Homo sapiens: one gene and its partners. The protein of the gene in region 1 purifies or fractionates together with the protein of each later gene. This does not show direct contact. Each region holds a gene or a part of one and is shown in the gene's direction. Other genes may lie near its edges. The genes, in order: PXK, UTP25, ANKRD44, CTR9, YBX3 and ANKRD28.

Evidence for each region.
Region 2: the proteins of PXK (region 1) and UTP25 purify together in Homo sapiens (affinity purification with mass spectrometry; one large-scale study listed by BioGRID and IntAct). This does not show direct contact.
Region 3: the proteins of PXK (region 1) and ANKRD44 purify together in Homo sapiens (affinity purification with mass spectrometry; one large-scale study listed by BioGRID and IntAct). This does not show direct contact.
Region 4: the proteins of PXK (region 1) and CTR9 purify together in Homo sapiens (affinity purification with mass spectrometry; one large-scale study listed by BioGRID and IntAct). This does not show direct contact.
Region 5: the proteins of PXK (region 1) and YBX3 purify together in Homo sapiens (affinity purification with mass spectrometry; one large-scale study listed by BioGRID and IntAct). This does not show direct contact.
Region 6: the proteins of PXK (region 1) and ANKRD28 purify together in Homo sapiens (affinity purification with mass spectrometry; one large-scale study listed by BioGRID and IntAct). This does not show direct contact.

The regions. Positions count from the first base shown.
Region 1 is NC_000003.12:58,404,730-58,409,628, forward strand, and holds part of PXK (PX domain-containing protein kinase-like protein), read left to right. Parts: intron 1-4,194; coding exon 4,195-4,272; intron 4,273-4,802; coding exon 4,803-4,889; intron 4,890-4,899. UniProt on the Homo sapiens protein: Binds to and modulates brain Na,K-ATPase subunits ATP1B1 and ATP1B3 and may thereby participate in the regulation of electrical excitability and synaptic transmission. May not display kinase activity.
Region 2 is NC_000001.11:209,854,529-209,858,974, forward strand, and holds the end of UTP25 (U3 small nucleolar RNA-associated protein 25 homolog), read left to right. Parts: 3' UTR 1-3,037; downstream 3,038-4,446. UniProt on the Homo sapiens protein: Component of the ribosomal small subunit processome for the biogenesis of ribosomes, functions in pre-ribosomal RNA (pre-rRNA) processing. Essential for embryonic development in part through the regulation of p53 pathway.
Region 3 is NC_000002.12:197,303,406-197,308,304, reverse strand, and holds part of ANKRD44 (serine/threonine-protein phosphatase 6 regulatory ankyrin repeat subunit B), read left to right. Parts: intron 1-4,899. UniProt on the Homo sapiens protein: Putative regulatory subunit of protein phosphatase 6 (PP6) that may be involved in the recognition of phosphoprotein substrates.
Region 4 is NC_000011.10:10,753,801-10,758,699, forward strand, and holds part of CTR9 (RNA polymerase-associated protein CTR9 homolog), read left to right. Parts: intron 1-1,157; coding exon 1,158-1,397; intron 1,398-1,877; coding exon 1,878-1,995; intron 1,996-2,948; coding exon 2,949-3,038; intron 3,039-4,899. UniProt on the Homo sapiens protein: Component of the PAF1 complex (PAF1C) which has multiple functions during transcription by RNA polymerase II and is implicated in regulation of development and maintenance of embryonic stem cell pluripotency.
Region 5 is NC_000012.12:10,716,177-10,721,075, reverse strand, and holds part of YBX3 (Y-box-binding protein 3), read left to right. Parts: intron 1-1,932; coding exon 1,933-1,996; intron 1,997-2,954; coding exon 2,955-2,988; intron 2,989-4,899. UniProt on the Homo sapiens protein: Binds to the GM-CSF promoter. Seems to act as a repressor. Also binds to full-length mRNA and to short RNA sequences containing the consensus site 5'-UCCAUCA-3'. May have a role in translation repression.
Region 6 is NC_000003.12:15,679,480-15,684,378, reverse strand, and holds part of ANKRD28 (serine/threonine-protein phosphatase 6 regulatory ankyrin repeat subunit A), read left to right. Parts: intron 1-4,815; coding exon 4,816-4,899. UniProt on the Homo sapiens protein: Regulatory subunit of protein phosphatase 6 (PP6) that may be involved in the recognition of phosphoprotein substrates. Involved in the PP6-mediated dephosphorylation of NFKBIE opposing its degradation in response to TNF-alpha.

The DNA.
Region 1 (4,899 bases):
ATTCTCCCTCTCCTTTCTATATTCCAAAAGAACATGTAATACTATTAGGATGAAAATAAATTTAGAAAACAAAAAAAAGAAAGAAAACCAAGGGAGGGTTTAGAAGACTGTGTCAGTGAGAGAGGTGCTTTCCTCTGTTCTGTTTTGCCAGTTAGAGGAATTCTGACAATAATAGCTTCTTTGGATCTGAAGTAGGAGAGAAAAAAACATTTAAATTTAATGTCTTCTTCACTGAAGCATCTTAGCAAATTTCTTCAGCCTTGTCAATAAATATATTCTCCTCCAACCCTGACAGTCTGGCCTTTAGGATTCAGGAGTTAGTACTAGACCTCGCTCTTCCCCTAAGCCAGAGAGCCTATGCAGCAAAGATAGTATGATTTTAAAATCCAACATTAGTTCTTGTATGTACACTGACTTTCTGGAAAGATATACAGGAGACTGGTAATGTTGGTTTCCTCCATGGAAGTAGGTGGGAGACTTCACTGTGTATGTGCCCTTTTATACCTTTGGGATTTTAAACCATGTGACTGTATTACCTACTTACAGCTTTTTTTTTAATTTGAAATTTTTACAGAATAATAAAGACAAAAAGTTCAACATGATCTGGGGGTCTTATCTTCCAGGACCAGACTCCTCATGATTTAAAAAGCTAATAAATTAAGAAATGGCCCGGGCGTGGTGGCTCACGCTTGTAATCCCAACACTTTGGGAGGCTGAGACAGGTGGATCATTTGAGGTCAGGAGTTCCAGACCAGCCTGGCCAACATGGCAAAACCCCATCTCTACTAAAAATACAGAAATTAGCCAGGCTTAGTGGCAGGTGCCTGTAATCCCAGCTACTCGGGAGGCTGAAGCAGGAGAATTGCTTAGACCTGGGAGGCAGAGGTTGCAGTGAACTGAGAGCACACCACTGCACTCCAGCCTGGGCGACAGAGTGAGACTCTGTCTCAAAAAAAAAAAAAAGGAGAAATGATGGAGGCAGAGGTTGCAGTGAGCTGAGATCATGCCGGTACACTCCAGCCTGGGGAACAGAGTGAGATTCTGTCTCAAAAAAAAAAAAGAAATGATAGGCTCAGAAACAAACTGGGCTGTTGTTTGGAATGTCTCCCAACAGGGAAAGCTGGGAAAGTTTAATCTTACAAAATTCAGAACATAAATCTCTCACAAAGAAGATATCTCTGAAGTTATAATAACTGGTTGAATTTATGTATGTTCCAATAAGCTTTATATAATTTTTTAAATATTTTTTTTTCTTTTGAGACGGAGTCTCGCTCTTGTCACCCAGGCTGGAGTACAATGGCATGATCTCGGCTCACTGCAACCTCCGCCTCCTGGGTTCAAGCAATTCTGCTTCAGCCTCCTGAGCAGCTGGGATTACAAGCATGCGCCACCACGCCTGGCTAATTTTTGTATTTTTAGTAGAGATGGGGTTTCATTATGTTGGTCAGGCTGGTCTCGACCTCAGGTGAACCACTCACCTCGGCCTCCCAAAGTGCTGGGATTACAGGTGTGAGCCACTGCACCCGGCCAATTTTTTTAATTTTTAATTTTAATTTTTTTTTTTTTGAAGTAGGCGATTTTTTGTTGCCAGGCTGGAGTGCAGTGGTGCAATGACGGGGCTCAGTGCAGCCTCAAACTCCTGAGCTCAGGTAATCCTCCTGCCTCAGCCTGTTGAGTAGCTGGGACAACAGGCGCGTACCACCACACCCTGCTAATTTTTTAATTTTTTTGTAGAGACAGAGTCTTACTGTTGCCCAGGCTAGTCTTGAACTCTTGGCCCCAAGTGGCCTCCCAAAGTGCTGGGATTACAGGTGTGAGCCACTGTGCCTGACCTAATTTTTAAATTTTTAATTGTGATAAAAAATACAATATAAAATTTACTCTCTGAACCATTTTTAAGTGTACAGTTCAGTGGTGTTAACTATCTTCACATTATTGTATAACAGGTCTCTAGAGCTTACAACCTGAAACTCTATACCCATAGAATAATGACTCCCCATTTCTCCCTCCCCACAGCTCCGGGCAATCACTATTCTACTTTGTTTCTGTGATCTTGACTACTCTAGAAACCTTATATAAGTATTTGTCCTTTTGTGGATCATTTATTTCACTTAGCATAATGTCCTCAAGGTTCATCTATATTGTAACATGTAACAAGATTTCCTTCTATTTTTAAGGTTGAGTAATATTCCATTGTATGTATATGCCACACTTTTTTTATCCATTCATCTGTTGATGAACATTTAGGCTGCTTTTACCTCTTGTCTGTCATGAATAATGCTGCAGTGAACATGGGTGTGCAAATATCTTTTTGAGATCCTGCTTTTGATTCTTTTGGATGTATACCCAGAAGTGGAATTCCTCATATGGTAGTTCCATTTTGTAGTTTTTTGAGTCACCTCCATACTGTTTTCCATAGCAGCTGTACTACTCTACATTTCCACCAGCAGTGTACAAGGGCTTCAGTTTCTCCACATTCTCACCAACATTTATTTTATTATTTTAATAGTGGCTATCCTAATGGCTGTGAGGTGATGTCTCATTGTGGTTTTGATTTACATTTCTCTAATGACTAAAGACATTGAGTGTCTTTTCATATGTTTTTTGGCCATTTGTATATTTTCTTTAGAGAAATGTCTATGTCTTTTGCCTCTTTTTAATTGGGTTACTTATATTTTGTTGTTGAGTTGTTGGAGTTCCTTTATATATTCTGGATATTAACCCCTTATCAGACCTATGATTTGCAAATATTGTGTCCCATTTCTTGAGTTGTCTTTTACTCCGTTTTTCTTTGTTGCACCAATGTTTTATTTATTTATTTATTTATTTATTTTTCTTTTTTTCTTTTGGAGACAGGGGCTCGTTCTGTTGCTTAGGCTGGAGTGCAGCAGCACAATCTCAGCTCACTGCAACCTCCGCCCTCCCAGGTTCAAGTGATCTTCCTGCCTCAGCCTCCCAAGTAGATTACAGGCGTGCACCACCACACCTGGCTAATTTTTGTATCTTTAGTAGAGACGGGGTTTTGCCATGTTGGCCAGGCTGGTCTTGAACTTCTGACCTCAAGTGATCCACCCACCTCAGCCTCCCAAAGTATTGGGATTACAGGCGTGAGCCACCTTGCCCGGCTGCACCAAAGTTTTAAATTTTGATGAAGTTTAATTTTTTTTCTTTTATTGCCTGTGCTTTTGGTGTCATATCCAAGAAATCACTGCCAAATCCAGTGTCAAGAAGCTTTTCCCCTGTGTCTTTTCTTTTAGGAGTTTTATAGTTTTAGGTCTTATGTTTAGGTTTTGAATCCATTTTGAGTTAATTTTTGTTTATGGTGTAAGGTAAGGGTCCAACTTCACTCTTTTGTATGTGGATATCCAATTTTCCCAGCACTGTTATTGAATACACTGTCCTTTCCCCCATTGTATGTTCTTGGAACCCTTGTCAAAGATTATTTGACCATATCCACAAGCATTTATTTCTGGGCTCTCTCTTCTTCTTTTCCATTGGTCTGTGTATCTGCCTGCATGTCAGTACCACACTGTTTTAATTACTGTAGCTATGTAATAGGTTTCAAAATCAGGAAATGTGAGGCCTTCAACTTTATTTTTCTTTTTCAGATTGTTTTGGCAATTTACAGCCCTTGAGGATTACTTGCATTACTTGAAACATATCATGTTTATTTATGTTTTAGTTTTATGTGTTCATTGCTAAAAAATGCTAGAGAAGTGAGTGTGTTAGGGATACCAAAAGTGGCTGGGGTAGGATTTGAATGGACAGCTTTAACTGATTTTATTCCAAATGACTCTTTTTTTTTTTTTTTGAGATGGAGTCTCGCTCTGTCACCCAGGCTGGAGTGCAGTGGCGTGATCTCGGCTCTCTGCAAGCTCCGCCTCCCGGGTTCACGCCATTCTCCTGCCTCAGCCTCCTGAGTAGCTGGGACTACAGGCGCCCACCACCACGCCCGGCTAATTTTTTGTATTTTTAGTAGAGATGGGATTTCACCGTGTTAGCCAGGATGGTCTCCATCTCCTGACCGCGTGATCCGCCCGCCTTGGCCTCTCAAAGTCCTGGGATTACAGGCATGAGCCACCGCGCCCGGCCGAAATGACTCTTGATAACCACCTGCTCCTTCATTTACTCCAGGACTTGGAAGTATCTCCAGCCACCTTTTTCAATAGATGATGTACTTTTCTCTCCTTTCAGATCCCTACAAAGTTAAAAGAGGCATTGAGAATTGCCAAAGAATGTATAGAGAAGAGACTAATTGAGGAACAGAAACAGGTAAATTGATAACGGTTCCTCTTTGCCTTTTAGTGTCCCCATCCTCTGCCGTGGTTTTTATAGTGATTGACCTTTGACTGTTCCCTCTGCAAATATTTTAAGCATACTTACTCTCAGCCAGCCTTTAGGCTAAATGCTTCCCTGCAGAGCTGAATACTTGACAGTCCTGCCCTCAGTCCTGCCTAGTCTATGTGGGAAACAAACATGTCCAGGAAGGGCAGTCTGGGTTTCTGATCAGAGCATGCCGGCCGGTGATAGTTGCGGGCATGCATGGTCCATGCTGTCTCACCACATTCTTCTTCTGTAAAAGAGGGAAAGGCAGGAAGGCATTAGGGGCATGAGAAAGGACCTCTTCCTTTGGCATACTCCTCTACCTGGCATCCAGACCCGAGCCAGGAAGTAGACAGCCTGAGCAAGGAAAGATTTTCTTTTATCCCAATAAAATGTGGTTTGCCAAAACATGTTGGAGAAGATTTTCATTAGGAAGCTGCCTTATGTGGGATATGCTTACATCTTATGGTCTTTTAAAGATTCACCAGCATCGAAGACTGACAAGAGCTCAGTCCCACCATGGATCTGAGGAGGAAAGAAAAAAAAGAAAGATTTTAGCTCGAAAGGTAAGCCTGC
Region 2 (4,446 bases), on another chromosome or scaffold:
GACCAAGGGGGGCTCATGAAGGCTCTCAGCCCTGATTGTGCCCTCGTGAGGGCAAGGAGCTATGCTGCTGAAGGAGGAAAGGGAAAGGCAGGTGGGGCCAGACCCTATTGGCCATCTGACCAGCCTTCCCAAGCCCACGTGAGCAGATCTAGGGTCTCAAGATTACAGAAGGCCTGGGGTGAGGGAGCAAGAGTTGGAAGTTCTTTATAGTTGTCTGAAGAGCCTCATTGTCCAACTGCAGGGGCCTGAGGTGCCCAAAGCTTCGTGGAAAAGTAATGTCAGTGGAATGCTCAGAAGTGGCTCTTTTCAGGGCACGGCTTCTGAGGAGCGTGGGGCCACCACAGCTAGCCCTCCCTCCGTCTAGCCATCCTCTCCTTCCAGTCCCTTTCCCATCTTTTCTCTCAAAGGAGCATGGTAGTGATCTTCATTACCAAATTTCTACTCCACACTTATTTTAAAAAGCTTTTCTGAAAGCCTGGCTACATAGAATTCTAAACAGATTTCAGTCAACTTTTAATTAGAGTCAATGAATGGGGAGTAAATACACAGATAATCCAAAATTGATGTAAGCATTGGAAGGGGAAAGAGGGAACGCTTCTTTCCCTCTGGGCTTGGTCATTTCCTCCCAAGCAAACCCCGCGACGTTCAGCCGTCTTCCTCCTATGCCACGTGCTCTCACCAGAACTGCAGCAAAACTGCATTTTATGTCCTGTGTCTAAAGCTAAACACATGTTCCTGTCTACTTTTGCTTTGTTCCTGTTTCCCTTCTGTGAGGACCTTCCCCTCCTCAGATGTGGGGAGTTGCCGCCTCCACTTGCATTACATGTATTTCAGAGTAGGTCCTAGGCTCCCCTTACACCTCTGGTCACGTTGCCATTATTCCTATGGTAGATAAAGGGGATGAGAAAGAACAGAGCTCCAGGCCTTTTTCAAACAAACTGGTTTTCTCAGTATAGCCCTATGCTCAAAAGGAGTGAGGACAGGTATGTGACTGCCATAAGGAGCTGTTTGCTTTGCACAGAGAAATCTAATCTTTCTCCTGCTGGGCAGCTCAGTACAGATGTCCCCTCACTGCTGGAAGAAACACCTGCCCTTGCTTGTTCTCCTGATGGCCCCTCACAGTCAGGTGTGGGATGGCACATTTCTAGGTGCTCCTCGCCGAGCTGTCATGGGCTTCAGTCTTGGGCCTCTGCAGCTGGCTGTGACCAGGTGGAAACTGTAGCCTTGGCTGACCCAGAGAAGGAAAGGAGGCAGTCTGCCGCTTGGCTGATTTAGGAGTTGTGCTGAATTCCTGCCCATCTGTTCTCCCAGCTGAGCCAAGGCCAAAGCTGTCTACCTTTTGCCAACCTAAGGAATGACACAGAGCATGGAGCACCATCACTGAAACATCTGCCCCAGTGCCCTGCCACCTTCGTCCTCACTGACCTCTGCAGCCTCTCTCATCTGCCAGTTTTGATTCCGCAAGGAGAGGTGGCCCTGGGCTCACAGCTGGTGTTTGTCCACAGATGTTCATGGGTTTCTTTGTGTTCTCTCATTTTTTCAAAGCTGGGTGTTGGGACCAACATCACCACTGACATTCTGTGGCTCTAAACAAGTCCTCACGACCACTTCTCAGTTTTCTCATCTTTATGAAGTATGGAGTAATCCCCACTAGCCTTATAGAGGGACTGTGTGAGAAGGGAAGAGACTGCTATTGTTTGCCCTATATCCACCTACTTCCCTAGTTCCAGAACGCTGGACTTTAATGAGATAACAAAGTACCTAGTAAAAACACTGCATCATTTTCCATCCCCCACCCCTTGCAGTAAAATGTGGCCCATGAGACAGAAGCACTAACTACTGAGCAGGACTTCTAGGGGAGTTCTTTAAAACTCAGAGGAGCACCACTTTTACCTTCTGCTCTTCCCTTTTTCCTGCCTGGAACGCAGAAGTGATGGCTGAAGCTCCTGAGGCTATAAGCTCTGTACGTAGGAGAGTGGTGAAGAAAGGAGCTTGGTTCTGCAAGGATGTTGTAGAGCTGCCATACCAGTCCTGCATGGTATTCCTGTGCACTACTGTTACGTGAACACACAAACACCTAATTTGTTTAAGCCATTAGGCCAGGCCTCTATTAGCCATTCCTGACTGATACAGAAGACAAAAATGGCATCACAGACTCCTGAACTCCAAAGACACTGCCTATTCTTTCGTCTGTTCTTGGCAAGCACCAACATTGAGACTGTACTTCAGGGTTGATGCTGGCCATTTGGTGGCGTGAGGAGTGGGCACTCACATGTCTCTGCTAGCAGTTCTGACGTGTCCATTCCACACTGGATCCATAGAACGAGGGAACACAAGTGTCTTCTCATAAGATTTATAGAAACAGTGATCGTTGCAGAAAAATAATTAGCAAGAGAACAGACTTCAGCTCTCTGAAGGCTGATGACCACCTGTTTCTCATCTCTTCTAGTGTATGTCAAAGCTAAATTAGGTCAAATAGGAAATAAGTCAGAATCCCCAATTCGATAGAAACTTACAGGTCTTGTGATCTAATCTGCCACTTGATCCGTGAATTACCTATAGGTCATCCCTAAGAGGTGGCCTCCAGCTTCTGCTTGAATTCCTTCAAGGATGGGGTGCTCATTGTGGCTTTTCTAATCATCTCTGATTGTTAGAAACACTGTGAAACTTTTATCCATCAGTCCTGTTTCTGAAGCTGTACGGTACAAATTTTTTTTTTCCCCACTTAAGGCTCAACTATTGGAATACATCTACCATGTCTCCTATGAAACTTGCTTCTCCAGGCCAATCATCCTTACTTCCTTAAACTTTTTTTTTTCCTGAAAAGTTATTCTTTTAATCTTATTAAAAAAGCAACCCATGCCCATTCCACAAATACAAGTGAAATAGTGAAAAACAAAAATCAAACTACATCTATTTGGTGATCATTATTAATGTCTTATGTTTCCTCCCAGATTGTTTTCTGCATGAATAATAACCAACAATGTGTGTGTATGTATATATATGCTTTTGCATTAAAAGGTGGTTTTGAAGGTAACATTTTTTGGAGTACTGATTAAGCGCCAGCAACTCTTCCAAGCTCTTTGCATGTATTACATCAGTTAATCCCTCACACCCGTTTAAGGTAAGCATCCTTATTTTTCCCGATTTCCACACAGGCAGCACAATCCTGAAAACCTACACTGTTTTTACTAGATAATTACTTCTCTAAAAACAAAACAATAAAAGCACTCAATAAATAGTAGTTATTATTACCCTTTTTAATGAAGCAATCCTAATTGTTGAACTCTTAAAAGGACTAAGGGATGGCTCACACCTGTAAATCCAGTGTGTCCGGAATTGGTAGGTTCTTGGTCTCACTAACTTCAAGAATAAAGCCGCGGACCCTCGCCGTGAGTGTCACAGGTCTTAAAGGCTGCGTGTCTAGAGTCTGTTCCTTCTGAAGTTCGGATGCGTTTGGACTTTCTTCCTTCTGGTGGGTTCCTGGTCTCACTGGCTTCAAGAGTGAAGCTGCAGACCTTCGCGGTGTTACAGCTCACAAAAGCAGCATGCACCCAAAGAAGTGAAGAACAAAGATTCCACACCAGGACAGAGTACGAGGAGATGCCACTGCTGGCTCCAGCAGCCTGCTTTTATTCTCTTATCTGGCCCCACCCACATCCTGCTGATTGGTCCATTTTACAGAGAGCCGATTGGTCTGTTTTACAAAGAGCTGATTGGTCCGTTTTGACAGGGTGTTGATTGGTGCGTTTACAATCCCTAAGCTAGACACAGAAGTTCTCCAAGTCCCCACTAGATTAGCTAGATACGGAGTGCTGATTGGTGTATTCACAATCCCTTAGCTAGACATAAAGAGTCTCCAAGTCCCCATCAGATTAGCTAGATACAGAGTGCCCATTAGTGCATCCACAAACCCTGAGGTAGACACAGGGTGCTGATTGGTGTGTTCACAAACCTTGAGCTAGATACAGAGTGCTGATTGGTGTATTTACAATCCCTTAGCTAGACATAAAGGTTCTCCAAGTTCCCCACTAGACTCAGGAGCCCAGCTGGCTTCACCTAGTGGATACCGCAGCGGGGCCGCAGGTGGAGCTGCCTGCCAGTCCTGCAGCGTGTGCCTGCACTCCTCAGCCCTTGGGCAGTAGATGGGACCAGGCGCCCTGGAGCAGGGGCCGGAGCTCCTCGGGGAGGCTTGGGCAGCGCAGGAGCCCACGGCGGGGGTGGGGGAGGCGGCTCAGGCATGGCCAGCTGTAAGTTCCGAGTCCTGCCCCGCGAGGAGGCAGCTGAGGCCCAAGAATTTGAGCGCAGCGCCAGCGGGCCGGCACTGCTGGGGGACCCAGGGCACCCTCCGCAGCTCCTGGCCTGGGTGCTAAGCCCCTCACTGCCCGGGGCGGCGGCGCCAGCCGGCCGCTGCAAGTGCGGGGCCAGCTGAGCCCACGCCCACCC
Region 3 (4,899 bases), on another chromosome or scaffold:
CCATCATTGTGGGCAGGGAGCCGCCCGCCTGCTTGGAATCCCTGCCTTAGAGTTTGTACAGGAGTACCTTGCTCTCCATTCAGCTTCTAGTAAAACAACCACTTCTTAATTTCTCCCTCCTTTTTTTTTTTTGTGTGTGTGTGTGTGTGTGTCAGGGTCTCACTCTGACTCGATAGTATGATCATGGCTCACTACAGCCTTGGCCTGCCAGGCTCAAACATCCTCCCACTTCAGCCTCCCCAGTAGCTGGGACTATGGGCGCGTGTGCCACCACACCTGGCTAATTTTTGTATTTTTTGTAGACACAGAGTTTCGCCATGTTGCCCAGGCTGGTCTCAAACTCTTGGGCTCAAACAGTCCACCTGCCTCAGCCTCCCAAAGTGCTGGGATTACAGGCATGAGCCACTGTGCCTGGCACCTCATCTGTTGAATGCCCTATTTGTGAAGTGAATCTTGATTTTTGCTAGGCCTCTTGGATTTTTTACTGTTGATAACCTGAAACACAAATTGTCTGGATTTGTCTTTAAATGTGGCAAAAGTCAGGGGTGACAGATGATGACATTTTCTCTCCAGCTAAAGCTGGGTGCAGGAGCTTGCTAGGTGAAGCAGACACTACTTCAGCAGTCAGTCCTGTAGTGACCTCTCAATCTTGTAAGAGAAGGAAAATGTTTTTTCCTAACTCTTTTTTTTTCAGGAGAGTAAAAAGAAAAAGGGAGAGACCAGTGTAATTTTTAGTCTTTTTTTTTTTTTTTTCACTGTAAAAAAGGAACTGGGAGCTATCACTACAAACAAACAAACTTGGCATTTAGCACTTCTGCATTTGTAACTTTTGTAACAGTGTCCCTTCTGTTTTCCTCTTCACAGGGCACACATAATTTTTATTGCAGCCTTAGGGGGCACTAACCATCCTGGTTTGTGCAGATTGACTGGTGTCCCAGCATATGGGGCTAAAACCGGGAAAATTCCAGGCAAACTGGGAGGAACTGGTTACCCTGTGTAACATAGAACATCCTCAACTATGTCATTAATATAATAATGTAATTAGTTCCTTGTATGTGGACATTAGGAGTTTTATATTTTTTGGTAAAGTGAGATAATTTTAAGTTTGGGAAAGAAAATTTTGTTAAATACAGATCTAAGGCATTTGACTCAAAGATAGCCATGAAACCTTTTTGAAAATTGATTTGATATTGACTGTTTTAGGGTGTTCTTTATGTCATATAGTTAAAGGCACTGTAGTCATTTTAAGTGTGTGGTCGTATCTTCAGCCTGGATCTCTACCCGAAATTTATTTTCAGAGTTATGAAGCTAGGATGGTAAGTTCTGTTGCATGTTTAAAGTGTCCACTATTCTTACCTGCATTTGTTAATGATGGCAGAACACTACTTTCATCTCGGAGGCTGCCTGCAGACAAACTGTTTCAGCAGGTGGCCTTTTTGGAGCTTCCTGCCTGGAGGCCTTCTGGTTTGGTGTTCCCTTGCCAAGTCCTAGTTCACACTTGAGTCACCTACCTTCTTGCCAAAGGCAGTGGCTGGCAGCGGTGGCAGTGGCAAGAGACTAGAAATCCTGTGTAACTTTGGGAGCAGGATTTCTAGCCCATAGTGTGGGGCCTTGGGACGTGTTACATATTTTACTGGGCTGCCCTTGTTCTTCCATGGCTCCCTAGAGCACTGGTGTTAAAGCAAACAGTATGCTGTAGTCCTGTCTTCAGCATAGAAGAAGGGAAAAGAAAGGCTTTATTTAGAACCTTTTCTGGTTGTTTCAGGACCCAATCACATGGTTTTGAGAGTGCACTTGAGGCTGGTGTTTCATGGCAGAGACCTAATAATGTCACACATTTATTGTGCTCTTATTGTATACTGGGCCTTTGCAGTGAATCATGTCTTAATCCTCATAGCCACACTAGGAGGTAGGTGGTGGTGTGATTTCTATTTTATGGATGAGAAAACAGGAATAGAGAGGCTAATTGACCGGTTTAGGGTCATACGCCCAGTAAGTGATCTAGCACACTGTCCTACCCTGGCAGTCTGATTGCACAGGTGGGGCTCTGACCACAAGGCTATACTTTTCATAGTTGAAAGGGCAGTGCAGCCATGGGATTAATGGGTGTCTGATCTTGTTTACAGAGAAGCCATTGGATGAACAGCGTTCCCTGAACTCCTTCTGCCTCTTGGGCCAGACCCATTTCTGTACATAGTAAGGAGCTGCTCTGAGGCCTCTGCCCCTGCCTGGCTTATACCTGGCTTTTCCCATTAGCCTCTCCATTTCCTCACCCCGGTGAATGATGTGTTGGTAGTTCAGTGATTTTTTTCATATATATATATATATATATATATAAAACGAACTGCGGTCATTATAGGAAAAGCAGAAAGCTAGATGAGCAAACCAAAAAATTTTAAAACCATCTGAAGCCTGTATACTCAAGAGATAACTATTCTTGACATTTTGATATGTTTCCTTCTAGTCTTCTGTCTGGGTAGCCAGTTAAAATTTTTAAACTTTTCGTGTGATAATATCATTACCTTTCACTTGTGCACATAGCTGATATCTGTGTTCTCTACACCAATGACTTTTCCAAATAAACTTATTCTTCTCTTACATATATGATTGGCTCTTTAGCCAACGCCAGCACATAAGCTCTAGCTCTGGATTAATGGAACTAACTTTTTTCTTTTTCTTTTCTTTCTTTCTTTCTTTTTTAAGATTTCAACTTTTTACTTCCTCTTTTGCTGTAAACAGAGAGCAAATACGAACTCAAAAAGGCACAAATTGTTTGTACCAGAAACAGAAATGAAAGATTCTTTAAAAAGATTTGTATTTCTACAAGATAATGTGAATTTTTATAGGCTAAAGTATAGCACGAAATAATTTAAAAACAGGCAGAGCTACAGAGATCTGATAATTTTGTGATTTCCAAATTTGTTTAAGCTATGACACTCCTTTTTTCCCCCGAAGAAATTTCATATTGAAGCTCAATATATAAAAAAGATTGGCTTGGACAGTGGTCCCTGAGTCCCTCTTGAAAACTGGTTGGGTTTAGTATTATTTGAAAGCCCCTTTGTATGAGAAAACTCCTGGTGATTGGTTAAGTGTTTTTTGTTGTTGTTTTTGTTTTTTTTCCTGACACATCATGTATGAAACAACATTTATAAATGTTTGTGAATGATTAGGAACTACACAGAACTAGGATGACTATATCATTTTTATCCGTTTGAGAATCATAGGTGATACTACTCAATATGAAGCCACAAATAGACGTGAGCCAGGACTGTCCTGGGTAAACCTGGATATGTGGTCATCATATATTCACATAGACTCCATGTTTGCTCACCACAGGCTTGACAGTGACAGTAAACTAGTTTGACTAGCAGACTACTCTGTCTCTTTTGAGTCAGGTCTACAGTGGTGCAGGTATTACAAAGATTGTTTTATGACCTTGTGCAGAGTTGGGAAACAGCTTCCATGTCACACATGAGTTCTGATCGGTCCAGGACTTGCAGGTGTAATGTGATAGAAACATTCTGACTCTTGCAGTCAAGGATCCGAGAAAGTGTGATTGATTACCAGTGTTTGCTATGGGTACACGGGAAGGGAGAAGTGACATATGTTGTACATTAGCCAACCCTTGGCAAGACATGTTAACCTCTGTAGGCTTCAGGTTTCTCTTTGTAAAATGAAGAGGTTGGACTGGATGCCTTTATGGTGCCTCAGCTCTGCCCTCTCCCTTCTGTGACTTGGTGCCTGTAATGGAGACCGATGCTCTTCACATGGTTTGTGTTATAGCATTTCTTACAAATGTGCCTATGAAGGGTGTATTTGCAGATGAGCTCTAATAAGGCTTTCCAGGTAACAAAGTCAAACAGCTTCAAGTTCCAGAGAAGGATTTTAACCCATGTCAATGACTTAGGACTAATTCCTATTCTCCACCCTACTTCAATTCATAGATAATCTAAGATTACCCATTTTATTTATTCTGTATTTTTATTTTTTTGGGACAGAGTCTCGCTCTGTTTCCCAGGCTGGAGTATAGTGGTGCAATCTTGGCTCATTGCAACCCCCGCCGACCCCCTCCTGGGGTTCAAGTGATTCTTGAGCCTCAGACTCCCGGGTAGCTGGGATTACAGGCTTGCACCACTACGCCCAGCTAATTTTTGTATTTTTAGTAGAGATGAGGTTTCACCATGTCGGCCAGGCTGGTCTCAAACTCCTGGCCTCATGTGATCTGCCTGCCTCAGCCTCCCAAAGTGCTGGGATTACAGGGGTAAGCCACCACACCTGGCCTAAGATTGCCCTCTTTATAGATTACTCCTTTTTAACCTTTTAACCAATATATTATTTGGCTTTGGCTGCTTTCAGAGGTCGGGAATGCAGGTATTTGCCCTTATCAGTGTTTATGTTTGTAAATATGTTGGTAGCCTAAGAGGTTGAAATTAATGATTCATGAATCCAGCTTGTAATTATGATATTCATAATTTTTAAGGATCTTTTCACTTGCCTCCTCTTTTGAAAACTTAAAATTTATATTCTATAAAGTGAGCTAAGCAAATAAATATATAGTCCACTTTGGGCTGTTTCAGGGATTACTAAGTCGATAATTGTTTGCATTTCTTGGTTTTTGTTTGCTTAGAGTCCCCTTGCTCCCATCCTGGGGAGTCTTAAGCATCCAAGCATAGCTTTCTAGGATATCTTTTATACCAGAAGACCATTTTCCCCTAAGAAAGCTTTCAGAGCTTTTAGTAAAATTAGGGAGACTTGTGGAAACATCTGTTTGAGCCTAGACATGGAAATTAATTACAATTCTAACCTGTCTCTAAAAGTTTTGCTTTTTTTATTTAAAAAATTTTGTTTTGCTTTAGTTTGTTTTAAAAATAACACTAGATTGGGAATCAGAAGACGTGG
Region 4 (4,899 bases), on another chromosome or scaffold:
CATTGTGGGATATAGATTTTTACAGGGAAAAGAATGTAGGCTTTGGGGTTAGATCAAGTCCCGGCATGGCTGCTAACTAGCTATGTGACCTTAGACAAATGATCTAACTTCTGAGCATATGTCCTCATTTAAAATATAGAGATGTTAGCATCTACCTCATAGAGTGGTTGTACAGATTAGAGAATATGTGTATGAAATTCCTTTCATGGTATGTGACCAATAGTCAGTGGTTAATAAGTGGTGGATATTCCACATAGAGACAGAGTCTCTCTATTTTGCCCAGGCTAGACTCAAACTCCTGGGCTCAAGCCATCCTGCCACTACAGCATCCCAAGTAGTAGATTACAGGTACATACCACCACACCTAGTGGATATTTCTTTTATTATTTATAAGTCAAACAGATGCCTAGAGAAGTTGTTAAACAGGCCCAAATCACAGATAATTTTTGGTAGATCTAGAACCAGAACCCAAGTTTTCTATTTAGAATTCTTCATATCTTTCACTATTGTTTTCTCTCTTAGGCTCTACTTATCTGAAAATTTTAGTTAGAAATCAACTAGATAAGCAGCAGATTGGGAACATTGTGAATGATTCCAGTTTTTTAAACAGTTTTATTAAAGTCTAATGGATTTATAATAAACTGCACATATTTGACATTTACCATTTGATAAGTTTTATCATCTGTATATACCTGTGAAACCATCACCACAATCAAGATTAATGAATACATTCATCACCTTCTGAAAGTGTCCTCTGTACCACTCCCCACAAGTCCCCCACCCCACCCCTAATCCCTGTGCCAGACAACCACTGGTCTGCTTTTTGACACTAGAGATTGTTTTACATTTTCTAGAGTTTTATATAAATGGAATCACACAATATGTACTCTTTTTTTGGTCTGATTTCTTTCATTCAGCATAATTATTTTGAGATTTATCCATGTTGTAGCATGTATCAGTAGTTCATTCCTTTTCATTGTAGGATAGTATCCATTTTATGGATACACCACAGCTTGTTTATCCATTCACCTGTTAATCAACATTTTGATTGTTTCCAGTTTTTTGTTATTACAAATAAAGCTGCTGTAAACATTTGTGTACAACTTTTTATATGGACATATGCTTTAGTGATTCTAATTTGTTTCATTACCTTATAGCTGGAATACTACAAGCAAGGAAAAACAGAAGAGTTTGTAAAATTGTTGGAAGCAGCACGTATAGATGGCAATTTGGACTATAGAGACCATGAAAAAGACCAGATGACTTGCTTGGATACATTGGCAGCGTATTATGTACAACAGGCTCGGAAAGAAAAGAATAAGGACAATAAAAAGGATCTTATTACACAGGCCACCTTGTTGTATACAATGGCCGATAAAATTATTATGTATGATCAGGTAAAAATAAAGTCAAATTTCTTTCCATTTATGAAGGGAGAAAAGCACATGAAAGCAAAATGTGTGTGATAGCAGATTTTTTGAAAGAGTTTTTCTTCAAGTAACATGGTTGATAGAGTCAAAAAGAAGAAAGGTTCCTCATTAAAATCGGAATGCTTTGGTTTTTGTACTGTTTAAGTAATATGGACAAATGTAGTACATAAAACTTGCTCCAGTAATTTTATTATCTCCAGGTGAATTTCAAGGATATTTTAAGGAATTTAAATTTTTCTTTTGGTTGTTGTTATTGGCACAGAAGACTTACATTTCAGGATAATTTCTTATTTTGTAATTAAGAATTGCTTGTTAGTAGCTTAAGCACGTTACATTTGATAGGGGAATTTGCACTGTGCTCCACCTCCTTCCTATTTGGTTTTCACTTTAGTGTTACATGTTCATGGTATATAGGGGTAAAATCTAAGATAATACATTACTTCATAGAACCATTTGTTGGGAAGAGCCTGCTTCTGCCTACTTGAGGGTGACAAAATGGATCAAGCTGATGCACAGTTTCATTTTGTACTCAATCAGTCTCCAAATAATATTCCAGCCCTTCTTGGTAAGTGGTCTTTGGCAACATGTTAGGAAACAGTTGTTTTCAGCATATGCCTAGAATATATCTCTTGGTAATAGCTCCTTAATAACTCAGCTAGACAGCAAAGTAGAAGAGCTTTATGTTGTTACAAATGAAATTACCTACAACAAATATTGTTGAAATTGTAGAAATAAAATATATACCAGTTAAGAATAATTTATTATTTAGGCCAGGCATGGTATAATCTCAGCACTTTGAGACCCTGTCTCGTTATACCTGTAATCCCAGCGCTTTGAGAGACTGAGGCAGGAGGATCACTTGAGGCCAGGAGTTCAAGACGAGCTGGGGCAACATAGCAAGACCCCATCTCTACAAAAAATAATTTTTTCAAAAAAGAGTAATTGGTTATACACTTCTGAAGAGCCAATAAACAATCTCTACTTAGACAACTTAAAGTTATTTCAATTATTACTTTATAACATTTTTTAAACTTTTATTGAAGTTCAGTGGTACAAGTGCAGGTTTGTTACATAGGTAAACTTGGTCATGGGGGTTTGTTGTGCAGGTTATTTCATCACTTAGGTATTAAGCCTAGTACCTATTAGTTATTTTTCCTGATCCTCTTCCTCCTCCCACCCTCCACCCTCCAAAAGGCCCCAGTATGTGATGTTCCCCTCTGTGTCCATGTGTTCTCATCATTTAGCTCCCACTTATAAGTGAGAACAGGCAGTATTCAGTTTTCTGTTCCTATGTTAGTTTGCTAACTTTATAACATTTAACATAAAAATAGGAAGTTTTATTTTTAGACATAAATTAGTATACTTTTATGAAAAACAAATTTTTAATATGAAATTTTGTTCTGTGTTTTCAAGTATTTCTCACTCAGAGATGTATTTAACTTAGATAAGTTAGTGTAAAACATAATAGACTTGTAGCCTTTAATCAGACACTGTGTTTATTTTTAAAAATCATTACAGGTAAAGCTTGCATTTCCTTCAACAAGAAGGATTACAGAGGAGCTCTTGCTTACTATAAGAAAGCATTGCGTACTAACCCAGGATGTCCAGGTAAGAGAAAAATTTTATTTTATGTCTAAACTGTGTATTACCCAGCTTAAAGCATTGAGGATTTGTCAGTTGCTTATGAAGTTATGAAAAGATATTGTTGGATTATAGAAATGTCAGAATCAAGTTTTTTTTTTGATGCTATGTTTGAGTCAAAAGCTGGATAGTAAGGCCAGGTGCAATGGCTCATGCCAATAATCCCAGCACTTTGGTAGGCAGAGGCAGGACTACTTGAGCCCAGGAGTTTGAGACCAGCCTGGGCAACGTAGTAAGACCCTGTCTCTACAAAAAATAAAAAAGTTACATGAGCATGGTGGCACACACCTGTGGTCCCAGCTCCTTAGGAGGCTCAGGCTGGAGGATCGCTTGAGTCTGGGAGGTTGAGGCTGCAGTGAGCCATCATTGTGCCATTGCATTCCAGCCTGGGCAACAGAACAAGACCTTGTCTCAAGGGGAAAAAAAAATAGATAGGGTCTGGCTGCACTGGTTCACACCTGTAATCTCAGCACTTTGGGAGGGTGAGGTAGAAGGATTGCTTGAGCCCAGGAATTTGAGACTAGCCTTTGCAACAAAGGGAGACCCCCATCTCTACAGAAAATCAGCCGCACATGGTAGTGCTTGTGGTCGCACCTACACAAGAGGCTAGGCAGGAAGATCACTTGAGCCTAGGCATTTGAGGCTGCAGTGAGCCATGTTCATGCCACGGCACTCCAGCCTGGGCAACAGAGCCAAGACCCTGTCTCAAGAAAAAAAAAGTCTGGATAGTAGATTATAATATAATCTTTTTGCCCTATACTATTTTTCTTTCCAAAATGTCATTCATGTAGCAAATTTTTACTGAGTACCAACTATGTGGCAGGCAGTGTTCTAAACCCTGAGAATGTAGCAATTAACCAAAGAGACAAAAGTTCCTGCCCTCATGGAGTCCAGTTTTCAGTGGGCAAGATAAATAGTAAAGTATGTATGATGTGTAAGCTACCAGTAAGAGCCAAGGAGAAGAATAAAGCAGAAAAAGGGTATGAGAAGCATCAGGAATTGCTTAGAAAGGATGACCAAGGAAACTCATCAGAGATAGTGACATTTGTGTGAAGACCTAAAAAACAACTAGCAGCCATGCAGATATATAGGAGAAGACCACTCCTAGAGAGAGAGCATAGAAGGTACAAAGGTCCAGAGGAAAGAGAGTGCCTGGTAAGTTTAAGGAAGAGTAAGGAGGCCATTGTTTCTGGAATAGAGAGAGAAAGAGTTGGGGGGAAAGTAGTAAGAAATGGGGTCAAAGCTATAACCAGGGACTGACTAATCACGTAGGGCATCACAGATTATTGTAAGGACTTTAGTTTTTACATCGACAGAGATGGGAAGCCATTGGAGGGCCTTGGGCAGCAGAGTGACGTGATCTGACCTATATTTAAAAGGTTCGTTTGAGCTTTGGGGTTGAGACTAGAGTGGGGCTCAAGGGGAGGGGGTCAAGGACAGAAGTAGGGAGAGCAGGGAGAAGGCATCTGCAGACAGGCAGGTCAGAGGTGATTGTGGCTCACACTAGGGAGGTAATAGTGGAGTTGGTACAAGTGGTCAGATTCTACATGTATTTTGAAAGGAGAGCTGATGGAGTACCTATGATGTATAAGACAGAGAGGAAGAGTCAAAGATAACTCCCTTGCACAAGCAATTGGAAAAGTAGAGTTATATTTTACTATATTTGGGAAATAGTTTAAGTGGAACTAGTTTTAGACCTGAAAAGTTTGAAATACCTTTTAGACATATAAGTTGTCAAATTAAGCAGTTCAGCCTTAAAGCTTTTAGAGCTTTATCCTGAGCCTTGAGAAGAATGTGGCTATACAACCTGAGTCACGTGGCATGCAGT
Region 5 (4,899 bases), on another chromosome or scaffold:
TGTTCTAGTATTTGCAAATGGGCCTTCACTTGAGTTTATAAGCACATAGGCCAGGAAAAATAGTTTTCATGAGTGCAAAAAAATTTTCCTTCTGATAAATGTTATGGAAATCTATGGTCTTCCTCCCCAACCCTTCCCCTTAGTGTATATGAAGTGGGTTTATGGTTTAAAGCAAGACGTGGGAATGAATTTGATCATAAGAAGTCCTTGGAGAAGTATTTGCGGAATTACGAAACTTTTTTAAACTACATTGGAGAGTAAAAATAACCTTCAGCTTGGATTGAGGTTAGACCTGAGAATTATTTATCATCTTTTTCCTTTATTATTAGTATTGTCATTTTAATCAAGATTATTCCTTCAACAATGCTAGATATTAAAAACAGTTCCAGTCTTTATATTTTCCCAGGTAATTAATTTTTTGGGCAAATGAAAAGAGGCACTAAACGCATATTATTTGGAATATTGCCTGACTTAAATGCATATAATGTATCAAAAACAGGCCTCTACTGTGTACATTTGCATCGAAAACATCAACTGTTTTTTTCTCCTTTGCCTTGCTGCTCCAATCAGAGTGGCCTCAAACGTAAGATGGCCTGGGTTTGATCTCTCCTTTGGAGAGATGAGAGATCTTTGGAATTAAAGCTGGAGAATGCCTCATCAGTGTAGACTGCATAACTTTGGAGATATAAAGACATGTTTTTTTTGTTTTGGATTTTCTTTCCCCCAACAAAGAGAGCTAAAGTATTTTCCCAAGTGTATCAGTCTAGCAAACTTCAGAACTACCCCTGCCTACAACAGAGCAAGTCTTAATTACTATTTTAGTTTTGAATTTAAAAGTGAAGCCTTATTGTTTATCCTTGGAAATTATAAACTTTGTATCTTATGAAAAGACAGTATGGATTGATGTTAATAATTACTTTCATTCTCTACTGAGGCTTTTTTCTTTATTTTTTCTTTAAGGTAATCTATTATCAGGTTTCCTGTTTCATTGAGTCTTTATAATTGCTTTTTGCACTTCCTGAATTGAGACAGGGGCATTTCCTAGAAGTACTGAATTTGTCATTCATAATTGATTCCAAAGATCATATTTGAAATAGTTGAGATAAATATAAACCTACAAAATACAAGTTACATGAAGTTTTATTTTGTTTAGATTCCTTCTCTCAATTCTGCTAAAATCAGGCATTGTAGAGAAGTGGTCCTGCTCATGAGGTAGAGACAACCATTATGGTAAAGAGGGGGATTTTATGGAAAAATGCTTAAGTTTGATTCGCAAAACTGTAGAGAGCAAGGTAAACAAAGAAACAAGCCCAAATTCATCATGTGATTTGAAAAGACCTGTTATATCACGTCTCAGAGTGGTAAGTACAGAACTGGATTGAGACAGCAGCAGTTCTATAATTATTCTTGACTCCTCTGATGAGCTCCCACTTGGCGACTGGACAAGTTGCTTTACGTCTTTGTAGATTGCCTGTTAACAAGGAGCCACCTTGTTTCTCATTAAAGTTTGCCTAATATTTCCAAGTATGAAAGTGATGTGTTAAGGTCTTTCACTCTTTTATTGTAGCTCCTATTTTGAACTTATAAAATTTGTCTAGGTTAAAACTTGGAACATTCATCTTGAACATTCTTTTTTTCCTTCAGTGTTTCTCAATTTTAATGATTACAGAATTGTATAGACTTATAACCACTCCTTATCTTGCGAGTTTCCTGAAAAGTTGAATAAGGAAGAAAGGTTTAGTCTTCTGAAAAGTATTTCCTTATGAGATCTTGGCTTGCTCCATTTTCTTTTTCTAAAGTATTTTGGAATTAAGCTTTTAATGGTTTCTTTAGGTATGTTTAGGCTTTGTCTAATGTTATCAAGATCTTAGTGATATGAGCTATATCTCTCTGTAGGTCAGATACTAATTTATCTGCTTAATCCTATTTTAGCCACCAAAGTCCTTGGCACTGTCAAATGGTTCAACGTCAGAAATGGATATGGATTTATAAATCGGTATGTGTGTGTGTATATTTGCATGTTTTAAGTTTATACTTACATTGTGGCACCAGGAGTTATAAATCCCTTAGCCTTCATTAATGGCTTATATAAATTTTTTAGGTTTCTAAGCACTGTAAATATTCTCATTTCTAAGCTACTGGTTGTTAAATATTACTTAAAATACATTTCCAGGACACTAATAAATAACTTATTTCATAAAATCTAGTCATTAAGGAAGAAAAGGAGGGGGAGATAAAATCAGAAATGGGAAGGGCCTTAGGATAAATGAGACCATATCCATAATTTCACAGATGGAGAAACGGAGTCTTACACTGGTTAAGCAGCTTTCCTAAGGTCACCCAACTAGTGAGTCATTGAGCTGGATCTTTAACTCACTTCTGGTCCAGTCCTATGTAGAAACTGTAAACTGTGGTAACTTTTAACCGTACAGGAATGAGAACATAACTACAAGATGCTGGGAGTATTATGAGGTTTTCACATGATATCGGCATTTTCTTTGCTTTCCCACCCCTTCTTAAAGTCCTCCAATTTCTTGTCTCCTTTGGTGGGGTGGGGGTGGGGGGCTGTTTTAAGTTTCAGTGTAAGGAGAGCCTAGTTCACAGCTGTGCCCTGTCCTTTTAACTGTCTTGCTTTGCTTTTGCTGGGAGGAAAATCTGAGGCTCTGATTACACACCATGTGATTCAGAAAGAGACAGAGGAACGGGATGTTTCTGTATGTTGAGTCTGTGAGCTTGGATCTAAGCACTGTGGCAATGTGGAGGAGGAAGGTGGGTGGCCTGTGGAGTTAGAAATGTTTAACAAGGATTTTAGGTGTCTGAATTGAGTGTAGAAAATAAGTGAAAATATATGTTGTGTTTTGAGGACTTGGGAGTTAAATTCATAACACATAGGTTCTTTTAAGTTTTTCCACATACGTACTACCTTTAATTGTGAGCTTTTTGTCTTTCAACAGAAATGACACCAAAGAAGATGTATTTGTACATCAGGTAAGAGGGATTATAAATACTACATTTGCTATGTGAGGAGAGGGTGTGTAATCTTCTGTCAGCCCTTTCCCAAAAGTAAGTCCTATGGATTATTATTTTAATCTAAACTCTTTCTGTGATTTATTTTGCAACAGGAGTTCAGTTCCACATTTTAAGATTGGCAAATAAGTTCTTCTACCCCATCATATTAACTGTTTTCAAATAGTTTTATTTTTGCAGTTGTATAAAGTGATATTTGGTTAGACCACTTTCTAATTTTTAAAGCCTTTGAGTCCTTAGCAAAAAAAAGAAAAGTCTGTTTCCCTTTTAGCATCCTGTTCTCCTGATGTGGTTCCTCCTTAGTGTTTGCCTGGAGCCAATCTGGCTTCTGCCTGGGTAGGTATTGGTTAAAGCTCCTCTGTCAGAGCAGCTCTCAATTGAAGTAAATAGCGCAGAGAAGCAGATAGTAAGATGAGAAAACTTCCAGTTCCCAGGGTAGCCCTCACTCTTGTTAAATGAGGCATGTTAGGACGTGTCCAGGTCAAAAGCTGCAAATTCCCTTAGATTTGCAGGAAATAGAGGAAATGGGTAAGATATGGAGCTTCTCTGCTATAGGTGCCTCAGTTTTTCTTTGCTTTATTAGCCTAGGATGTTATTTATTCTGTTATTAATATGTCCTAGACTTCCTTTATAAAATAGGTTAAGAGAAGGAATACTATCCTTAGTGTTCTTTTTGTTTATTTAGTTTTCAGTGAATTGTCTGAAATATGCGTTCTCAGAGTATAACAATAAGGAAGATAGAGCAGCAGGTACTAATGCCAGCCCATTCTCTTGCAGTGCAGAAATCCAGAATACATCTGATTTTCTGTGTTTTTGTTTCCTTCTGTTTAGGTTTGTGTGTGTATTGGAGTGACCGTAGGAGTTGGAGATAGTGGTATCTAGCTGTGGTTTCTATTGTTTATATTTCTACTTGACTGGATATATCTCAGTTGCATTTAGATAATTTGAGTAGATTTATTTTGTTCAGATACAGTGACTTTTAGGGTCATAATAGTGTTGTTTATAATACTTGGAGGTTTGAGGTTAATAGACCTTTTAGGGTAAGAATTCTGAAGACTGCTAGAGTCAAGGTCCTCAGAAGTTGCTGTATTGGTGGCTGGCTTTATTAGCCTGTGAGTATATGACCCGATTCCAGCCCCCGTGAGGTTGTGTGGTGAGTCACCTCAATGTGTTGAGGCTTGCCCAGTTTAACAGGAAAAAGGGAGCGAGCCGGCAGGGAGGGGCTGTTTTTGGAATGGCTGAATGTTCATGCTGCGTGCCTGTCCTGAACTGCCTTTTTTCCTCTATGGGTGAGGTCTCTGCTCTGTTGGCTCACTATTTCTTTTCCCTCCTACTCAGAGTTAGGGGACGGGCTGGATTACACATGCTTAATCGCTTTATAAAATAAGGTTGACCTAGTTCCATAGAAACGCAAGCCCCTTTAACTGTTTAGAGATACCAGCCAAAGAAATGGAAATGCATGGCAGGAATTATTTTCTGCCTTCATTGATGGAACAAGAGAGAGCAGCACCTATTCATAAGCAGATATTTAGGTGTAGATGTTTAATGAAGAATAGCATCTTCACTAACCTTTTAATGTATTATCAGGGAATGTAGGATTTGTTGACATGAATTGTGTGATGGGAGAAAAGTTGAATAAATATCATATAGGTAGAGTACAGGGATATGAATTCCCCCTCCTCCACTTCCCCCATCATCCCTGGGGCTGTTACGGTTGTGACTTCAGATAAATCACTTTAACTGTTAGCCTCGTGTTAACTCATCTGCAAAATGGGAGGAGAGGGGGGAGGCCAGATTATTACTAATACGTTCTGATTCTTGAGATAATTTTGTTTACTCGTCAGAAATATTTATCCCCTTGGCATTTTAATT
Region 6 (4,899 bases), about 43 Mb from region 1:
TGGTTAAAAGAGATTTTCTTTGGCCTCCTACAGGCTCACAGTCACAGTCATCGCTTTTATAGGTAGACTCATAAAAGGTCACGTAGGGAAGCATAAAGCTACTTTGAAGTTATAGATGTTAAAAATGCAGTTTGGCTTATGAAATGCCACTAATTAAAATAATTTATGCAATGAAGCATGTTGAGATATTTTTAGATTTGATCATCTTAGAAAACTCAAGTACATTATATACAGTGCAAGCATCAGTGTTGTCAAAGTTCAAGCTTCAGGCTTTAGTAGAGAAATTAGAGGTTTTTAAAATTTGTTTTCAATTTCAGTGTAGCTTCAAGATTAATGTTAATTATGACAGCAGATCTACAAAGCTGTAGTTCACAATTCTAATAACCTTCCCTCAAAATGCAGAGAAAATATAAGTTGTCTCTTTATATAAATACCCATTTGCTAAAAATAAATAAGTATAATATCTGTTGTAAAATCAGACTGCCTTACCAGGAAGTTGAGATTTCCTATCTTTCTATAATATGCTGTTTCATAGTTCTTTCACTGGGAGCTGTTCTGACAAAGTTATCAAGTTAAAGCAAAAGAGGAAAAAGCTGAATCTTGTAAAATTATAACTTCATTAAATGTTTCCACAAGTATTTCTGAGATACAATATTTTGATTTTCATATTAGTCCTTATGCCAAAGTTGGGAGTTGTATTCTTTTGCCGTTAGAACATTTTGGGTTCTTGAGGTTTGTCCTGTTATACTGTTGGTTATCCTTCAGCTGAGTACTGATAGCACCATAAAAACTTGAATAGTTAAATCTGTTGCTCATTGAACAAGCTAGTTTAGTCTCTTTGTTTTTTACTACCTTAAATCCTTAACCAAAACAGTTTTGAAAACTATAAAACCTTTGGGGTTTAACTTCTCTTTTTCCCATTTCTACTCGCTAAGGCAAGTAGAAATGAGTGTAGTGAAGTGGCCAGAGACTAGTACTCATACTAGAACAAAGAAGATACTGTATTTTGCCATTGATGTTTGATTTGTTTCTGTAATGTGACTTGACATTTTACAAGTATAAGGAAAACCCAAAATATCTAATATAGTGGGAAAATATCTACAATTGTGAGTTGTGTTTCTGTAAAAAAGTCAGTGAGATAAAACTGTTCAGAAGCAAAGACTTACTGCTTGGTTTTTAAAAAAATATATCCCTGAAGATTAACCATTGGAAAAATCACACAGTGAGATATTTTTCCTCAGGAAGAGCATTTAGTTGTAAATGTACTGCTGTAACTGTCCTTTGGAGAGTTGCTTTCTATTACAGTGTTTGTTATCAGATCTATATGTAGAACATTTTCCCTAAAGTGAGTTCCTACTCTATCACTGCTAAATTTAGACTCTAAGCACGTTTTGTGCAAGAGACAGAATTTTGCAAGAACTGCATGCCTGGTTGCCATTTAAAGATCATAACAAATGTGTCTGATTTTCAGCCTGTAGCAAAATTGTGGTGATGCTGAATTTGAGCTGGAAGGAATTTAATGTGTGTTGGCTATATGCAATAAGCGACTATATAGACAGCCTAAAATTAATACCATATTTATAGCCAAAAGCCCGTTTTATAATTTGGCATTCTGAAAGTAGAATATGTAAAATGGTTTTTACTTTAACTAGTAATTATTGTACAGCTGGAAAGAAAAGTGGAAGCATGCCAACAGAACAGAAAACAACCTCTTAAAATTAAAATGAAATGATGGCCAAGTTTTAGAAAAACACTGGCTGTAGATACTAAAAGTTCACAATTTCAGTTTATATAGTCATTCAATCACAGAACTTAAGAATACTTATTATTCCTTTAAAAAATGTGTTCATTTTTATGAAGCTCTAAACATCCTCAGACTAGCCTCTGAAACTCAGGAGGACCCAGTTTACCATCCTATCTATCTTTCATAAATGATGATAGAAAGTTATGAGATTGTCTGCTTGATATCACCCAGTAATGATTTCTGGAGGTCACAAAGGGGCCCCACTGTTCCCTTTTCTCAGTCTGTACTCAGATGGTGAGTGGTTCTCAAACCCTTTGGTCTCAGGAACTATGGATTGATACTGACTGTATTAGAAATTGTAATTGAGAAATTTTTAAATACTTACTGATTTATTTAAAAATAATGTCTATTACATGTTAACATAAATAATCTTTTTTTATGAAAACTATTTTCCAAAAGTATTTTCTTTTTAGTGAGAAGAGTAGTACATCTCTTCATAGCTAATTTAAGAGAATAGTTGGGTTCTCATCTGTGTTTTTATTCATATTTTTTTTGCGTCACCCCAGGGTTCCCTAGGCCACACCTTAAGAACCCATATACCTGGAGAATGAGGGGCTCTTAAGTCAACAATGGACAACTTTCCATTGCTGTATCTTAGTAATGAGTTAACATTCAGAACGATGGCATTAAAGGAGTTTCTCAACCTCAGCACTATGACGTTTTGGGCCAGATGATTGTTGCAAGGGACTCTCCAGTGCATTGCAAGATGTTTAGCAGCATCATTGGTTTCTACCCACTAGATGCCAGTTGCACTGCCCCACCTTCAGTTGTGATAAACAAAAATGTCTGTAGGCATTGCCACATACAATATCTGCTGATGGGCAAAATCCACTTGAAAACTACTAGATTAGAGAAAAGAACTGACAAAAGATGGAACACAATTACAGGTTTTTCTAAAAATTACTTTTCCACAATTATAGGGTAAAGTTTAAGCTGATTAAGTTTGAGTAATTTAAAAAGAAAAGAAAATATAACATCACTTTGGTAGGCAAATATTAAACCATGAAAATGTATAAAGAGGCCATGTAAGAATCTTATTCCTAAAGTAGATCCCAAATGACTAATGAAATAAAATAAGCAACATTTTATTTGTAGTAATTAGGGTATTAAATTAAAACCCTGGCTCTGGAATTAGGGTAAGAAAATTTGAAATTTGGATTTTTCTGTTTTTGAAGTTACTGTTAAAAACTATGGACCAGATATTGATGAACAGTCAATACAGTCAGCCCTCCATATCCATGGGTCCCCCATCGGTGAATTCAACTGAATGTCCATCAGAAATATAGTTAGGCTGAACATGTACAGACTTTTTTTTTGTCATTATTCCCTAAACAATACAACAACTATTTATATAGCATTTACATTGAATTAAGTTGTAAGTAATCTAGAGATGACTTAAAGTATATGAGAAGATGTGCATAGGTTATACACAAATAAACCATTTTGTACAAGGGACCTGTATAAGGGACTATGGAGTTTTGCTGTCAGTGGGGAGTCCTGGACCCAATCCCCCAAGAATACCAAGGCTGGATACTTCTCCTTTACCACAGCAATATCACTTTGGTAGGAAATTGTCCTACAAAAATACTTCCTAAAATAAAAACAAAATGTTGGCCGTGGTGGCTTATGCCTGTAATCCCAGCATTTTAGGAGGCTGAGGCAGGCAGATCACTTGAGCTCTGGGATTCAAGACCAGCCTGAGCAACATGGCAAAACTTCATCTCTACAAAATATCAAAAAATTAGCCAGGTGTGGTAGCCTTGCACCTGTTGTCTTAGCAACTCAGGAGGCTGAGGTGGGAGGATCACTTGAGCCCAGGAGGTTGAGACTGCAGAGAGTCATGATCATGCCACTGCACTTCAACTTGGGCAACAGAGCAAGACCCTGTCTCAAAAAATTGTTTTAATAAAATAAAAAAATACCAGAATGTTTCATTACAGCGTTGTTGATAATATCATGAAGAATTTTTTTAAACTAGCAATCACTTTAAAATCCATAATTAGATTAAATAATTTATGATATACTTTGATACTGTGAAGCTCTTCAGAACATTAAAGAATAAGATTTTAGCCGGGCATGGTGGCTCACACCTGTAATCCCAGCACTTTGGGAGACTGAGGCAGGTGGATCACCTGAGATCAGGAGTTTGAGATCAGCCTGACCAACATGGTGAAACCCCGTGTCTACTAAAAATACGAAAAAAGCTAGCTGGGCATGGTGGTGGGCGCCTGTAGTCCAGCTACTTGGGAGGCTGAGACAGGAGAATCACTTGAACCCAGGAGGCAGAGGTTGCAGTGAGCCAAGATCGCGCCACTGCACTCCAGGCTGGGCAACAGAGTGAGACTCCATCTAAAATAATAATAATAATATTTCATATATGCTATTATGGAAGGATATGTGTAGTTAATATTAAGTAAAAGGCAAGTTGCGGAATTAAACATCCCATTGCCATTAAGAAAAAAATAAAAAAATAGCACAGTCATTTCTCGTTTGCTGTTGAGGATTGGTTTCCAGGACCCCTTGTGAATACCAAAACCAACAGGCGCTCAAGTCCCTTATAGAAAATGGGATAGTATTTGCATATAACCTATGCACATTCTCTGCTATACTTTAAATCATCTCTGGATTACTTATAATAACCAATGTAATGTAAATGTTATGTAAATAATTGGTATGCTGTATTTAGGGTATATGACAAGAAAAAAAGTCTGCTCTGTTTTTTTTTTCCCCCAAATATTTTTAATTTGGGGTTGGTTGAATTGATGGATGCAGAACCCACGGATACAGAGAGCCAACTGTATGTATTTTGTGCGTGCAGTTGTATATGCCTAGAAATTTTCAGGAACTACTGGTGGCTTAACAGCTACCAATGGTTATATTCCAGAGAGGGGATCTGGGAGATGGGATGAGGGAGAGACTTTTACATTTTTCCTTTAAACACTTACATGTACCTGTGATTTTTGCCAGTATCTCCTTTGAATTTTAATACCTGGTTCTTTACACCTATTTAGGTCACGAGACATGTGTAGAACTGCTTTTAGAACAGGAAGTTTTCCAGAAAACGGAAGGAAATGCTTTTAGTCCATTGCATTGTG